Linked DNA regions of Homo sapiens. The protein of the gene in region 1 purifies or fractionates together with the protein of each later gene. This does not show direct contact. Each region holds a gene or a part of one and is shown in the gene's direction. Other genes may lie near its edges. The genes, in order: ACACB, TACC1 and MOXD1.

Region 1 (3,657 bases):
CTTGAGCCCAGGAGGTTGAGGCTGTACTCCAGCCTGGGCAACGGAGTGAGACCCCCATCTCAAAAAAAAAAACAAAAAAACAAAAAAAAAACAATGAGGAACTGAGGGTTGGAGGCAAAGTGTCACTTTCTAGAGGTCACACCATGAGGTGCAGGTCAGGGAGGGGCAGCCCCAGGAGCTGCCGGGTGACCTGGGCAGGCACCTCCCCATTTGGCAAGGTGAGGAGGATGTTTGTCCACCCTTCCCTCTGCAGAAAGCTGCTCTGAGCCTCATGTGACCTTACAATTGTGTGAGGGCTTTTTAAGCCACCAAGCATGTTTTGGGAGAGAGTGGCTGTTGGATCACTGGGGTGTTGAGGACAGAGCTGGATGGGAGGCAGACAGACCTGCTGTGAGTCCTTGTTAACTGGGTGACATCACTGAGCCTCAGTTTCCCTCCTTTGTAAAAGGGGGTTAAGAACAGGACCAACCTCAGAGGGCCGAGGTAAGAGTCTGATGAGCTAATTGCTGACATGCAGTGTGATTGTCAGTGCTGTTATTATTGCATTCTTGTTTTCATGTAGGGTGCCTGGGGACCTGGAGAGATGTGTCTTGGTGGAAGATAAGGGCCATGTTGCCCATGCACATTGGGGAAGGATCAGTGTGACTGTTAGTGAGGGTTTTCTTTGCTGGAAATGGTGGGGCAGGGCAGGGACAGTCATGGGTGAGGGCATTTCAATTCCAGTTGGAAAGAATCCTAGAGATTGGTTTTTCCCTGTGCCTTCACAGATGAGGCCACTGAGGCCCACACTGGGTGAATGACCTGTTCGAGGTCACACAGCCACTTAGAGAGTGATCAGTACTCTCAAATCCCAGCCCAGTGCTCTCCAAGCCTCTCAGCTGGGCTCACTCTCCCAGGACCCCCAGGACAACTAGGGCAGTGGGTTTCATGTGTGGATGAGTGAGGGCCCTGAACTGGGAGGCTGCTTTGCTTTTCAGACATGTATGACCAGGTGCTGAAGTTTGGAGCCTACATCGTGGACGGCCTTAGACAATACAAACAGCCCATCCTGATCTATATCCCGCCCTATGCGGAGCTCCGGGGAGGCTCCTGGGTGGTCATAGATGCCACCATCAACCCGCTGTGCATAGAAATGTATGCAGACAAAGAGAGCAGGTGGGTGTGTTGCCCTTAGCCTGGCTTAGCCTTTTCTTGTTCTCCCAGCCTTGAGAGCCCATGACCTTGGGAGATCATGGAGGGATGCAGTGGCTGGAACCTGTAAGTGGTGGAGAAATGTTGTCTCTTCTTTCATGGTTTCCACTTCCCCTTCCCAAGGAAGTTTGCAATCAAAAAATAAAAAGGAAAGACCAAAAGCACTTGAACTTCCTGGCAGCCAGGATGAAAAGGGAAATATGATGAGCCATTTATCTCTCATTAGACTCTGAGCTATGAGTTCCTATAGGAAATGTTTTATTCAGTTTTATATCCCAGGGTCTAGCACAGTGCCTTACTCTCCTGGTAGGTGGTCAGAAAATACTGGCTAAACAAATGACTGAATGAATACTTGCATGAGAGGATACCGGTTCTTCGCGGGAGAGGTAACCTCCTTGGCACTTTCCTTAGGAGGAATTTATTCCAGAGATTCTTACAGAAAGGATGATGACAATAATGTTCACAGCACAGTGACTGATGACTTTGAAGTGAAAACTACATGCTACACAGGATGTCAAGGCCTCAAGAGTCATTCTACTCCAAATATAGGCACGGCATTCCTGTGTTCACTCCCTCATTCATTTGCTAATTCAATGAATATCCATTGATTACCTCACTGTATGCCAGCCATTCTGGTAGACATTATGATATGGTGGCAAATGGGCCAAGCTTGTCCTGCATTCAGGGCACTTAGACCCTTGTTAGGGACTGCTGAGGTCAGTCCTCCAGGAAGACTCAGGATACTGAGCAGCACTTGAATGGAGTCATTGCTAACTTTTCATGCTGGCCACCAGGAAGCTCAGAGCTACTGATAGCATTCTTCAGGGCTTCTAAGCTGTCAAAAGCAAAAGGGGGCAGGGGGAGAATAAGGGGTAAATAAAAATGTTGGAAATGAGGCCAGGCGTGGTGGCTCACGCCTGTAATCCCAGCATTTTGGGAGGCTAAGGGGGGCAGATCACTTGAGGCCAGGAGTTCAAGACCAGCCTGGCCAACACAGTGAAACCCCGTCTCTACTAAAAATACAAAAATTAGCTGGGCATGGTGGTACACGCCTGTAATCCAAGCTGCTCGGGGGGCTGAGGCAGGAGAATCACTTGAACCCGGGAGGCAGAGATTGTAGTGAACCGAGATAGTGCCACTGCACTCCAGCCTGGGTGACAGAGTGAGACCCTGTCTAAAAAAAAAACAAAAAAAAAAAAAAAGAAAGAAAAGAAAATGTATGTTGGAAATGGGAGGACAGCTCACACAAGACTACACTGGGCTCTCAAGGTGCTTTTGTGAGATTTAAAGCGATCAGAAACAGTGCCCCTCCTCTAGGAGGGCAGAAATTAGCAAAGTTAGAGAGGACTGTGGCTGGAGAGCAGGAGGGTTATGCTGCCATGGAAAAAGTCGTACACTCTTAGACCTGAAAGGGGCCCTCCAGAGTTCAGAAAGCATTATTTTAAACAGTTGGCTCAGTCTTTCCATCTGTGGGTAAAGATACAGAGGCCCAGAGAGGGAAAGTGACTTGTCTAAGGGCACACAGCATGTGTGGGGGTAAAAGAGCTGAGGACTGACACCCAGATCTTCTGGCTCTCTTCCCTCCAGCTCCCCCCACATCCATTAGCCCTTGCTTGCTGGGCAATGCCTCATATACCCCCATCCCTGCCTCTTCTCTTTTAAGGGGTGGTGTTCTGGAACCAGAGGGGACAGTGGAGATTAAGTTCCGAAAGAAAGATCTGATAAAGTCCATGAGAAGGATCGATCCAGCTTACAAGAAGCTCATGGAACAGCTAGGTAAGGGGGTCCCAAAGGCTTCACCTCTCAGAGGTCAAGAGAGGCCCAGCTGGCCCACTGCTGGGGGTTTCTAGGATGTTAAAAATAAAATGAAAAAATACCAAAATACAGCTATAATAACTGTGAGATTTTTAAAGATATTCACATTTGTCTGTTTGTTTTGTTTTGTTTTTTTGAGGTCTGGCTCTATTGCCTAGGCTGGAGTGCAGGGTGCAATCTCAGCTCACTGCAACCTCTGCCTCCCAGGCATAAGCCATCCTCCCATCTCAGCCTGAGTAGCTGGGACTACAAGTACGCAACACCATGCCTAGCTAATTTTTGTATTTTTGTAGATGTGGGGTTTCGCCATGTTGCCCAGGCTGTTCTCAAACTCCTGGGCTCAAGCAATCCACCTACCTCAGCCTCCCAAAATGCTGGGGTTACAGGCATGAGCTACCATGATTGGAGGACATTCACATTTCTAAATCAACCTTTTTAACATTATATATATATATATATATATATATATATATATTGCCATCGTGAATTTATTTCTCAGCATACACAAAAGATAGCAATTGAAGTATTTGGGGCTGATGGGGATTATCAGAATTTTGGTGGCAAAATGTTCCTTTAGAATTCCCAATCAGAGATAAGATATTTTACTAATTTTGTTTGAATGACAGCTTTGTTTTACTTGTCATCTTTAGA
Region 2 (3,657 bases), on another chromosome or scaffold:
AGTCAATCCCCCATCTCTCCTGGGAAATTATCTGACTTTTGCAAGGTCCTTGGTGTTTTCAGTGTAATTACCTAAGGTCCTATTCCATATCAAGTTTCAGTTTAACTTTGCTACAGGATTACTTTATCACAAAACTTGAGTAGATGATAATACAATCATACATCACTTAGCCACAGGGTAAGCCACAGGGAAATGCATCCTTAGGTGATTTTGTTGTGTGAACATCGTCAAGTGAACTTACTCAAACCTAGGTGGTGAAACCTACTACACACCTAGGCTATATGGTACAGCCTGTTACTCCTAGGCTACAACCCTGTACAGCACATTATTGTACTGAATAGGTGCTAGGTGTGGTGGCTTACACCTGTAATCCCAACACTTTGGGAGGCCAAGGTGGGAGGATCCCTTGAGGCCAGGAGTTCAAGACCAGCCTGGGCAACATAGTGAGACACCCCCCCACACACACCGATTCCCTGTCTCTTAAAAAAATTTTTTTTAATTAGCTGGGAGTGGTGGTGCATGCCTGTAGACCCAGCTACTCAGGAGGTTGAGGCAGGAGGATTGCTTGAGCCCAGGAGGTTGAGGTTGCTGTGAGCCATGATTATGCCATTGTACTCCAGCCTGGCTGGCAGAGCAAGACCCTGTCTTTAAAAAAAAAAAAAAAAAAAAACTACTATAGGCAGTGTAACACAATGGTAAGTATTTGTGTATCTAAACATATCTAAGCATAGAAAAGGTACAGTAAAAATATAGTATAAAAGATAAAAAATAATACACCTGTATAGGGCCCTTACCATGAATGGAGCTTGCAGAACTGGAAGTTGCTCTGAGTGAGTCAGTGAGTGGTGAGTGAATGAGAAGGCCTTGGACATTACTGTACACTACTGTAGCTTCTATAAACACGGTACACTTCAGCTATGCTAAATTTATTTAAGTTTTTTTCCTTCAATAATAGATTAAGTTTAGCTTACTGTAACTTTTACTTTATCAACTTTTAAATTTTTTAAGAAGTTTTGACTCTTGTAATAAAACTTAGCTTAAAACACAAACACATGGTACAGCTATACAAAAATATTTTCTTTATATACCTATTCCATAAGTTTTCTTTGTGTAAAATTATTTATTTGTTTACTTTTTAAAATTTTTGTTAAAAACTAAGACACAGACACACACATTACCTAGGCCTACCCATTACCTAGGCCTACTCAGGATCGTCAGGACATCACTAGACAATAGTTTTTCAGTTCCATTATAACCCTACGGGACCACCATCGTATGCATGACTGAAATGTCATTACATGGCACCTGACTGTATATCCTTTTGTGGCCCTAAAAAGGGCCACATTTTACTAAAAAGTTTGAGTAAAATGTAGATATAAAGAAGGACCAATGAGATGCAGGATGAAATATGGGAGTATGAGAAGCACTGTGTTTGTACTTGTCACTGTAGATCAGTTGGGGAAATGCTTCTCAGCATTGCTATGACTTAAAGAAAAACTCCAGATATCATGGTGACTTACAGCAGAAAGGAAGACGCCCAGAGGTTTAAAGAGCAGAAGGATCAACTTCAGTACCAAGAAAGTAGAGAGATATAGGAACCAGTTCCTCAGCAGCCCCGGAATGGCTAAGGGGAGTGAAATGTCATTAGTAGCTCTCGATCTGTTCTTTGATTATATATAAGCAGTTAAATGGTTGTTGGAAAATATTATTGATTGGGTGCCCTCTTTTGTGGCTTTTAAGGTTGGTTACTCCTCTCTAGACAGCACTTAGGGTATGTACTGGGCACGTCACTGCCTAGGTACTTCCTCCCCTAAATGTGGGATGCTTCTGCATACTGAAGTTGATAAGGAGTCATTTGTGAGTCTTTGAGTTGCATGCAACCAATGCATTAAATAAGATGAAATCTGGGCCAAAGAAAGGGTAATTTATTCTACACTTTATATTCGGCAGCAAGAAGCACCGTCTCTCGAGTCCTGCCACCCTCACCCAGTAGCCTTTTTCCCCTATTCTGTTTTTGTTGAATGAACTTCTTGATCTAATACACTTAATAGGGCTTTTTTTAAGGCCTTATGCAATCAAAAATCTTGTCGTCTTGTTCTTTTTAGAAGAAAGGAGTGCTAGACCTCTTGGAAGTTTATTTTTCATCTGTAAATTTGAATTTGTGGCATTTCTGAGTGTTTCTACCAGTCTCCTTTGTAGTTGAGGTCTGTTCATCATTCACTCACTGGTGATAACATTCATGAATACGACATTTTTAATTTGTATCTCACCTCATAGAAAGAATTGTGCAGCTTTTACATCTGCCAGACTAGAGTTGAATATTCCAGTCTTTACATGATTTTTTTCTCCATCTGTCTGTCTCTTTCCTGTCTCTAATTTTGTTGGTGCATCAGGACTACTGAACAAGTGAAATTTCTCTGTTTTCTGTTGTAAGTACTCCTGCTGTTTCTTTAGTCCCTGGGACCGTTGGCAGTTTCCTCTCTCCCCTCCCCCAGCCATCTCTCCATAGCATGTTTGCTTCTAATTCTGAGTTTGATCTTCTGATGATTTTTTTGCATTTCATCAGTCACTTCATGAGTCAGCTTAGCCTTGCAGTTGTCCATACCTAAGGGAGTGGGGCTTGGCCTTTACACCTTAGGTGCTAGAGCTTGCACTCCCTGGCTTGGCAGGTGTCACGTGGCGCTTTGACAATACCAAAAGCTGGCTTGGCCCCAAGATCATCACAGCAGTGGTTTGAGGGACTGTTCTGCTATTTAATATTGGAAATCATTGGCTTTTTTGGTAGCATAAAGCTACTGGCTTGGAACAGTTAATAAATTTTACTGAGTCAGCTCAACTTGAGTTTGGTGGCAGAGGGTAGCACTCAGTAAGAAGATTAGGGAAAGAAGATCATGAACTAGTGATTATGCACATTCCGGTAACTTATGTGCTTGTCTTTGTATTTTTTCTCACAAAAGAAAAAAAGTTGCAAATAATTTTTTCTCTTTTTTTGGTCACAGTGGTGTTTTTCCTGGAAATTCTAAGTTTATTAGAACAGAATCTGAATTAGTCCTGTGATCACAAGTTGTGTGCTAATCTACAAATAACAGATGGTTCAAGCTTCCCCAGTTTCAGGCTTTGTGCAGCGTGTGACATTCATCTTCCATCTTACTACTTAATAGGAATGGTAACAGTTTACTCACATATTTTTACTTTTATACTTTTTATTGATGACAGTTCTTCTCTGTGAGCACACAAGTCTAACTGGAACTGTTTTATGAGACGTCTATGGCTTTTAGTGCAATAAAGAATTTTTAAAGAATTTGGTCCAGCGTGATGATTTTTCTAATGAATGTCAAAGCCAAGCGAGTGAGGCTCAGAGGAACTGAATGTCTCCAGCTGCTAAGGCTCTACTGTCTGCAAAGCTTTTGGTGGCGTGTAATTAAAAACCATAGACATCAGAGTGCTACTGTTTGACAACTCATAGAAGCAAGCTGAGGGGGTCTTTTCAGAGAATGAGCCCCGCTTGTAGGTCTTTGCTTACCCCGTCTCTCTGGAGAAAACTCAGAGGCATAAAAGGTGTCCCTGCCTCTCTCCTGCGGCGATGTATGATTTGTGTGGTGCTGTATGCTTTGGCTTCTATCCGCACACACTGCTGTCTGCTCCATTTCATACCTT
Region 3 (2,618 bases), on another chromosome or scaffold:
TCATTCTTTAAAAATCTTTTATTTGGTATTTCTTCTAGTAATCACTGATGAGCTCATCAACATTTTGCATTAGGTTATCTATGTGTATGAAAATGAATAAGTGTGAGATCTATTTTAGGATGCTGAAAAGTAAAGGAAACATGTAATGCATTTGTTCTGAATATGACTAACTGTGTCTTTTAAATTCAGGACCTGGCCTTTCATTATCAAAAGTCCCAAGCAATATAAAAACCTTTCTTTCATGGATGCTATGAATAAGTTTAAATGGACTAAAAAGGAAGGTCTCTCCTTCAACAAGCTGGTCCTCAGCCTGCCAGTGAATGTGAGATGTTCCAAGACAGACAATGCTGAGTGGTCGGTAAGCTCTTTTTAACCTCTGACAACCCAGATGACACATTTTATCTGAATCTATTACAGGAAAACCTAAGGAGAAGACAAATATCCATAAATCCAGGGGTCCAGTTGCCTTCTAATGTCTGATAATTTTTGTTCAATGATTACTTGGATTGACTGAAAACTCCTCATTCTACCCCCTTTCAAGAGAAAAATTAGTTCTAAAACTAAGGTTGGGATAGAGCAGGAACAGGCCGGAATGAGTGCTGCAAAAAGCAATAGAGCCTGCTTTGTATTCTTTTCCAAAGGAGTGCCTGGCCCTCTTTTCTGTTTCCTCCTTAACCCTAGGTTTCTGACTCCCCCAGTGTGTGACTCCTTTGGTAACCACTCCTGCCCCCTTTATCCCCTGCAGAAGTGTGGGCAGCTGAGCGGCCTGGTCACTGTGCTGCCTTAAATCAGATGTTCATTTGCATTGTTTGTGCTTCCATTTTCAGATTCAAGGAATGACAGCATTACCTCCAGATATAGAAAGACCCTATAAAGCAGAACCTTTGGTGTGTGGCACGTCTTCTTCCTCTTCCCTGCACAGAGATTTCTCCATCAACTTGCTTGTTTGCCTTCTGCTACTCAGCTGCACGCTGAGCACCAAGAGCTTGTGATCAAAATTCTGTTGGACTTGACAATGTTTTCTATGATCTGAACCTGTCATTTGAAGTACAGGTTAAAGACTGTGTCCACTTTGGGCATGAAGAGTGTGGAGACTTTTCTTCCCCATTTTCCCTCCCTCCTTTTTCCTTTCCATGTTACATGAGAGACATCAATCAGGTTCTCTTCTCTTTCTTAGAAATATCTGATGTTATATATACATGGTCAATAAAATAAAACTGGCCTGACTTAAGATAACCATTTTAAAAAATTGGGCTGTCATGTGGGAATAAAAGAATTCTTTCTTTCCTACTACATTCTGTTTTATTTAAATACTCATTGTTGCTATTTCACTTTTTGACTTGACTTTTATATTTCTTTAAAAAATTCCTTCCTTTTAAAAAATATAAAAGGGACTACTGTTCATTCCAGTTTTCTTCTTCTTTGTTGTTCTTCTAGTGTGACTTTTCAAGTGTAACAGCCATTCTTCCTGACTTTAATATTGTCCAGTTCTGGTCTTTTCTGTGAATTACCACTGGGCCCCTTACCTCAATGCTTTTTGTTGATGCCCACTCTGGTTCCCTTGTTTATCTGAGTCTGTTGGTACCCCAAATGACCCCACACCCATCTTAAAGTACTTTTTTTCACCTTCCCTGTTTAGTACTGGCCAGATGAGTTTTTTCTAGAGCTCTGTCACTATCTGAAAAGAAAGAGGCTATGGGAAACATAGAAATGGTATGTATTAATAACTGATCATAGGCTGAGGAGAAAAAATGTAGCTGGCTGCAAACCCAGTGCTGTGAGGTGACTTATATGAGGTTCCAGATCAAAGACAGGCCGTGTGAGCCAGTCCAGGAGGGTGTAAGTTCTGAATGGTTCCTTGCTGACTTTGGGTGACACATGTACCACATACTGGCTCAGTTTAAGTCATGGTTCTATTGTAGATTTATTTTTATATTAGTTAATAAATGACTTTAAATTGTCACCAATTGAAAATCTTGTCACTCTTTTGGTTTTCTTTATATAGCTCAGCCAAATCTTGTTTTATGTCCTGTCCTCATCTCTTAAGCTAAATCTGTTTGGATCATATTAATAAACTAAATGAAATTACACTTTTGTGTGGTATTTTATACATTGTTTAAGAAAAGTAAGTGATTCAGTACTAGTATTAACAGTAAAAGTCAATTCAGAATGTTGCATTTTCCATTCCATTTTGAAGCCCTTTTTGCCCCATAATGTCTTCAACACAAAACGTATTGCCTTTTAAATAAATATGTTTCAGAGTATTTCCTTCTTGATTCTTAGAACTTGTACATTTGATGAAATGTTTTTAATATTTTTGAGGCATATTTTTGAGTTTACTTTCTTTTTATTTTATAAGTGCTATTTCACATTCTATGATTTTCCATTCAAATATTTATATGAGAAATATAATTCCAAATGCTCCCTATTTGAAATTTTATGTTGATTTTTACTTCAGAATTTCTGAATTTGAGGTATCAAAGTCAAATGATTTCCTCCTGAGATTCTGTAATATTATATTTGTTCTTACCAAGAACAAATATTCTGTAATATTATATTTGTTCTTGGTAAGGAAGGTGAACATACCAGCTAGACGAGGGTAAACAGCTTTGGAAGCT

The links.
Region 2: the proteins of ACACB (region 1) and TACC1 purify together in Homo sapiens (affinity purification with mass spectrometry; one large-scale study listed by BioGRID and IntAct). This does not show direct contact.
Region 3: the proteins of ACACB (region 1) and MOXD1 purify together in Homo sapiens (co-immunoprecipitation; one large-scale study listed by IntAct). This does not show direct contact.

The regions. Positions count from the first base shown.
Region 1 is NC_000012.12:109,259,503-109,263,159, forward strand, and holds part of ACACB (acetyl-CoA carboxylase 2), read left to right. Parts: intron 1-562; coding exon of another isoform or gene 563-647; intron 648-977; coding exon 978-1,155; intron 1,156-2,854; coding exon 2,855-2,967; intron 2,968-3,657. UniProt on the Homo sapiens protein: Mitochondrial enzyme that catalyzes the carboxylation of acetyl-CoA to malonyl-CoA and plays a central role in fatty acid metabolism.
Region 2 is NC_000008.11:38,821,597-38,825,253, forward strand, and holds part of TACC1 (transforming acidic coiled-coil-containing protein 1), read left to right. Parts: intron 1-2,393; coding exon of another isoform or gene 2,394-2,429; intron 2,430-3,657. UniProt on the Homo sapiens protein: Involved in transcription regulation induced by nuclear receptors, including in T3 thyroid hormone and all-trans retinoic acid pathways. Might promote the nuclear localization of the receptors.
Region 3 is NC_000006.12:132,295,527-132,298,144, reverse strand, and holds the end of MOXD1 (DBH-like monooxygenase protein 1 precursor), read left to right. Parts: intron 1-189; coding exon 190-358; intron 359-827; coding exon 828-992; 3' UTR 993-2,090; downstream 2,091-2,618.